Linked DNA regions of Homo sapiens. The protein of the gene in region 1 interacts with the protein of each later gene in a biochemical or structural test. Each region holds a gene or a part of one and is shown on either strand. Other genes may lie near its edges.

Region 1 (3,118 bases):
TGAAACTGGACTTGCAAGAGTTTGCTGTAGAAGGTGTTCAAGTCAGGAAGATGCTCAGAAATGACCACTGAGAGGGTGGCATCAGTGCTGACTTAAAAAAAAAAAAAAAAATCTGACCTCACATGTTCATTTTTCCAAAAGTAGAGAGGCTCAGTTTCTAGCCTCTCAAACCATAAGGAAGTAATCAAAATGAGAGTAGATGGAAATCATCTCTTACCTTAAGGGCTCATGTACATTTCAGAGAAGCAATTTCTCTAGCTATACTTATTCTCTTATGGTCTTGTTTATTACTATAAACAAGCAAGTTCACTTTATCATTTACTTTTTATTGTGTTGCTTGAAGTACCTATGTAATGCAAGTATGTACTGTACTAAAATACCTATATTTCCAAATAACATATGTGGTGTAGCCCACAGTCTCTGCAGAAGCATCATGAGTAACCTGTGCCTTTACACTTTACAATCCGTTATTGGTTGCTGTTAAAAGTATGATAACAGATGAAGAAAAAAAAACTAAGTATGAATACACTTTTCCAAACACGCACATACACAGCTTACAATGGAATCCCAATGGAAATAAGTGACAACATCTGATGTAGAATCTATAAAATGTAGACTCTGCAATAAAAAGCCAAAGGCACGTAAAAATATATTTTAACTTTAAAAATAACTTAGTTACAGTAATACTTTGCCTGTGTCTTACCAACATGTAGCTGACAGTCAAAATTTTGCAATATAGATATAATATATAGGGATATATAAGAACTACAAGAAAATCCCCAAAACCCATAAAGTTCAAATGTGAAAACAGAAAAGTTTTAACACTGGAGAATTCGCTATGGTGAGCCTAAGCAATATATAGAAAAGAGTCTACAAAAAGGCTTAGGTGTTAAATAAATTTTGACTTCCTCTTGCTCAGAAAATGTCGGAGTGCTATAAAGTTCCGTGAAGTTCCTTAATGTGACTCGCTCAGCCCTTCATAGCTAGTGCCAATCCTGGCCAAGCCAGATTTCTTGTGTGTCTGCAAACAATATGTGAGCCGAACATCACCAATGCCTCCTGAAAATGGGCTCTGACTCACTTCCTTTTTTTGCCAAGATAGGTTTTGCTTTGTTGTTTTTTTCTAAATTGTTTTTGCAAACAGGGCATAACAGGTAAAAAAATACTTTGTAAGAATATTATTTTAGAAAACCCAACACAAAACTGCAAATACAGCTCCGGAAGCCCTTCTCTTCAACTGTGGTTAGTTTGTTTTTGTACCTTTTACCCCAAAGGAAAAAAGTTGGCATCTTGTTACTTATTTTTATCCATTACATTCAGCACCTCATCCAAAAGTGAGGGCCCAAGATCAAGCTGCAGGGAGAGGAGGGAACCTGTAAGGTCAGAGAGGGACTCCTCTGACTTAGTCTTTCCCTTGATGAGCTCGCATGGGGTGGGATGGTCAAACATGTCCTCGGCTGGCCAGTCGGGGTACTGTTCGGACAGGCTGGAGGAGTGGCTGTCTCTGCCTTGGCTGGACTGAGATGCAGAACCGCTGGAGCCCCACGAGGTGTCTCCCTGGTGGACTGTCCCATTCTCCAACAGACTGCTTTTCTCCTGAGCTTTTTCCTCCATGACGGGCTCGCAGCTAAGCCTGGGCAGCTTTGCTGGCCCGAAGGACTCCTGTTTGGAATTAAATGTCACTGGTGACAATAAGGGCAACATGAGAGCTTGGGATCCTCCAATGGTCGGGAGGGAGATGGCATTTTTGAGCACCGGGGAGGGCGTTTCTGTGAACACAGAGTCCGAGGTGCTGTTGGCCCGGAAGAACTCATTATGCCCAGGGAACTGGCCCAGGTGTGCTTTCTCCTGGTTTCCAGGTAAAAGCTCGTAGTTCCCTTGAAGAAAGGAAATATCTCCAAAGACATCGTGCTGGCCCTCTTTGCCAATGTGGATGGTGTGGCGAAAGTCTCCAAGCGGGGGACTGATCATATCAGGAGACAGAATGTCCCTCAGTTTAAATTTCTTTCCTTTCTTGTTATTGGCTGCTTTCAGGTAAATTGGGGTCTTGGCTGGCATTTTGGAATTTGAGAATGTCTATTTTGCAAGCGGGAGAAAGGGCCACTTTCTTCACAGATGGTATATGTTTCTGAATCCTTTTTGATAGGAACTGTCACATCATTTTTCTCAAGTGGCTTCAGAAGTGGCTTCGAAATGAGATGGGGTCAAAGAGAACCTTCCTGAGGTTACGGCCAAGTGAGGCTTCCTAGAGAGCCAGTTACATCATCCAGTCTTGACCACAACCAGGACAAACCTGCAGAAGAAACCAAAGCAGGTTATAAGCTAAAGACCCTTTTGGGTGCCCTAGGGCCTCCCTTTTCACAAGAGCCTGTAAATAATGGCAGGGCCAGTTTCAACTAATGCTGAACTTATTGTTTCCCTCCAGTAAGTGGATAAAAATTTTCATCTTAGAGAAAACAGGAAAGAGAAAGACCTAAAAACCCCATATCTATGACACCAGTACTTTTTAGACATAGCCATGGGCACATCTTCTGGACATGTCTATGGTTTTAGTCATTTTCCTCTAAGAATTGCTGTAAGCATAGGATCAGTGATTTCAGCTCCTTAAATACAACTGGATTTGTTTTAAAATACATTTTCCTTTTGCTTTGATGTGCATACTAGCAACACTAATATTTCATTGTTGAGTTCCATATGTACATAAGTTAATGCAATAAAATGAACAGTCCTAAAGGAAAGGTGCTGGAATTATTTAATAAGTGACAATAACTATTATATGCTACTGTCCTAAAAATGTTAGTGGAATACATTCTTACAGATAAGAAAACGGAGATTCAGGATAAGCCCTTCCCCTAGAAAGTTACCTTTTCTCAATAACATATAGCCAGTAAATAAGAGAGCTAGAGTTGTAATCAGGTTGTGGCAAAGTATTGGGCTGTCGAGGATGTCAGGATTTGAAGTCATTCTGAGATGGGAGGAAATGAACAAAACTGCTTCACTTCAAAGAGAAAACATTGTGAATCTCTATTACAGGCTGGGCCTTCACTTGGGAACACTTCTGAAACATTACTGATAAGGCTATATCCTCCATGCAGTAGGCAGAATTCGAAGGGAGCCC
Region 2 (3,519 bases), on another chromosome or scaffold:
TTTTTGAGATGGAGTCTTGCTCTGTTGCCCAGGCTGGAGTGCAGTGGAGTGATCTTGACTCACTGCAACCTCTGCCTCCTGGATTCAAGCGATTCTCCTGCCTCAGCCTCCCAAGTAGCTGGAATTAGAGGCATGCGCCACCACACCTGGCTAATTTTTGTATTTTTAGTAGAGGCGGGGGTTTCGCCAGGTTGGCCAGGCTGGTCTTGAACTCCTGACCTCAGATGATCCACCCACCTCAGTCTCGCAAAGTGCTGGGATTATAAGCGTGAGCCACTAGGCTTGGCCACCTTTGTCTTTTTAAGAAGTCATTTTGCTTCTGGGGACATTAAAAATTGTTTACTTTTATGTTTTATAAAAGCGTTAAGTTGTCCTATAAACTATAACAATTTTATATGCAACGCTGAAAAAGTTGGACTTTGAATTTTCTTAACTTTGGGATGTTACAGTAAAAGTAAATAGTAAATTACTGTCTCTCTTGATTTTATACAGAAAAAATGTATAAAGTTGCACTAATATCTTTTAAAGTATTTTTATGTGAAAAGCCTATTTTGGCCTTGTCCTGTTGGATTTTCTGGCCTGAGCTGCCCTACTGTAGTTGACCACGGGAAGTATAATGGTAAATTTCTCTTTTCTTATTTTGGTTTATACAAGAAAAGTAATGGGCAGCGTGCAGTGGCTCAGGGCTGTAATCCCTTTGCTTTGGGAGGCTGAGGCAGGAGGATCACTTGGGTCAAGGAGTTCGAGACCAGCCTGAGTAATGTAGCCAGACTCCGTGTCTACAAAAAAAAATAAAAAATAAAAATCAGCTAAGCGTGCACACTTGTGGTCCCAGCTAGTTGGGGGGCTGAGGTGGGACAATCACTTGAGCATGGGAGTTTGAGGTTGCAGTGAACTATGATTGTGCCATTGCACTCTGACCCTGTCTCTTAAAAAAAAAAAAAGAAATGATTGGAAAATGCACATCCAGCAATCACTAGTTTCATAGTTTTTTGTAAAAATAAATCACATTGTCAGAGAGAAGACCTATTTGTCTTATTTAAAATAGGTAATCTGACAACGTGATTATCTTTTTAAGACATCTTATTTAAGACAAATGGGTTGAGTGACAGGAGATTCTTTTGGAAACTCGGAGATGGCCTATGATGAAGCCTAAATGTCACTGTGAAAGTCTTGACCTGCTTTCTCCATCCTGGCCAACATCCTAGCCTGGTCAACCTGGTGAAACCCCATCTCTACAAAAAATACAAAAAAATTAGCTGGGCATGGTGGCTCATGCCTGTAATCCCAGCTCCTGGGAAGAATGAGGCACGAGAATCCCTTGAACTTGGGAGGCGGAGGTTGCAGTGAGCTGAGATTGTGCCACTGCGCTCCAGCCTGGGCGACAGGGCAAGACCCTGGCTCCGAAAAGAAAGTCTTTACCTGCTTCCTGCAGGTACCCTTTCTTTTTTGCAGACTTGCTGCCCATAGCTGGTAGCCAGGATTCCCTTCCTTTTGCTGTTTTCCTTCTCATTGGTTGGTCCTGTATACTTGTCTTAGAGCAAGTTTCTTCTTGTGGGATATTTGTTTATGCTTTTATTCTGTTCTACCAGTATGACCTCTAAACTCAAAGAGTTGGTACTCTTGAAGTTGAGTGAGGGTACATTAAGATGTGGTGGTTAGGACACGGGCCTGCAGCAAGATTCAAGTGCTTTGATATTCCTTTTAAGCAGATGAGTGAATACTGTGTTTTTGAATTGGAAGAGTGTGTCTTAGTGAGTTAAACTTGCATTGACTGCAGATTTTCACTAAATATCCTACTCTCCAAATTATTTAAGGTCATTTTAAAAAATAAGGAGAAAGCAACCCAAATCAGTAGACAGAATGAGTTATGTGGCTTTCTTTAGCTTTACTGTCTTTCATTTACTCAGTAACTTGATGCCTTTTTGTATCTCATGCCAAATGTCTTCTGTCCCTCAGTTTCTTGCACACGGAGTGTACCTCTCCGACAACACAGCATATTTGACTTGTTTTGTTGGTGTTTGGTTGCGTCATGATATATCTTTGATTAGGTTGTTCACTTGCTGCTTCTGAGCCAGAGACACACCCGAGACTTAGTAGCTTCTGCAGAGCCTCTCAGATGTTTGCTGAATGATAGTTTGGTCTTTTTGTGAGAAATAACTTTTTTTTTGGGGGGGTGGGGGCAGGGTCTCACTCTGTCACCGAGGTTGGAATGCATTGGGGCAATAATGGCTTACTGCAGCCTCGACCTCTTGGGCTCAGGTGATGATCCTCCTACTTCAGCCTCCTGAGTAGCTGGGACTCCAGAAACACCCTACCATGCCTGGCTAATTTTTGTGTTGTTTTGTAGAGACAGGGTTTCGCTGTGTTGCTCAGGCTGGTCTCAAAGTCTGCCTGCCTCAGCCTTCCAAAGTGCTGGGATTATAGGCTTGAGCCACCATGCCCTGCCTGAGAACTATCTCTTTTTCTTTGTTATTCACACACTCAGTGAAAATCCCAGGTAGTATTGTAATGATTATCTGGCTTTGTTTAGCTTCCCAACTCCCTCCCCCTCACAGTGTTCCTCCAGCATTCCCATTGTGCGTCTATGACTGGTCTTACCCTTGAATGGGTCCTTCATTTTGACCACTGAAGCAAAGCAAAATTCTTGCCTTATTATATCTAAGTTTTAGAATTACTGGAATTTGAGCATGACCTAGTTGTTTGGATTGAATTAGTCATTGTTTTTAATTTTACAAAGGTTTTTCAATATCTCTTTGGTTAAGCTTTATTAATATTGATGCTTCTTGGCTTTTCTTTTTATGAATAGGCCTCTGAACTCCCTGGGACTTTGTTTTATGTAAAAATCAAAACCTTAATCAGGCACTAGGATAAACAAATACTGTGCAGAATAGAGTTCTAGAAGGCTAGAAAGGCCTTTGGAGTATTTGAATTATTTTAAATATTAGGTGCCTCTTCTTTAAACCCTGGAATAGACTCTTAAGTCCATCTCTGCACAAGTAGTTTAGAATTTCCTAAAGTATTTTTTCTTTAATTTTTTTTTTCTTTTTGTGTGTGTGTGTGTGTGTGTGTGTGTGTGTGTGTGTGTGTTTGTGAAATAGAGATAGGGCCTTTTTATGTTGCCCAAGCTGGTCTTGATCTCCTGGCCTCAAATGGTCCTCCCCACTCAGCCTCCCAAAATGTTGGGATTAGAGGCGTGAGCCACCATACCCAACCAGTATTTTTTATTTAGTGGATATTTTATGTCATACTCTGAGGTTATTCCCCTTTGTCCGTGAAGAGGTGAGGGGCTTTAACTCTGTATTATAGGAGGGGAATGAGTGGGGAAAGGAGGAATTGGACATTTCTGTTTTTCTTCTCATCTACCTATTAACTTGCTTCTATCCATGGGAGCCCTTTCTTTTTTTTTTTTTTTTTTTTTTTTGAGACTGAGTCTCGCTCTGTTGCCCAGGCTGGAGTGTAGTGGCGCTGTCTGAGCTCATTGCAACCTCCACCTCCTGGGTTCAAGTGATTCTCCTG

The links.
Region 2: the proteins of CDC42EP3 (region 1) and MFHAS1 form a complex in vitro, tested with the Homo sapiens proteins (one large-scale study listed by BioGRID and IntAct).

What each region holds. Positions count from the first base shown.
Region 1 is NC_000002.12:37,644,530-37,647,647, forward strand, and holds part of CDC42EP3 (cdc42 effector protein 3), read right to left. Parts: exon of another isoform or gene 2,865-3,118; intron 2,294-2,864; 5' UTR 2,059-2,293; coding exon 1,294-2,058; 3' UTR 1-1,293.
Region 2 is NC_000008.11:8,883,613-8,887,131, reverse strand, and holds part of MFHAS1 (malignant fibrous histiocytoma-amplified sequence 1), read left to right. Parts: intron 1-3,519. UniProt on the Homo sapiens protein: Probable GTP-binding protein. Functions in innate immunity and more specifically the inflammatory response as a regulator of the Toll-like receptor TLR2 and TLR4 signaling pathways.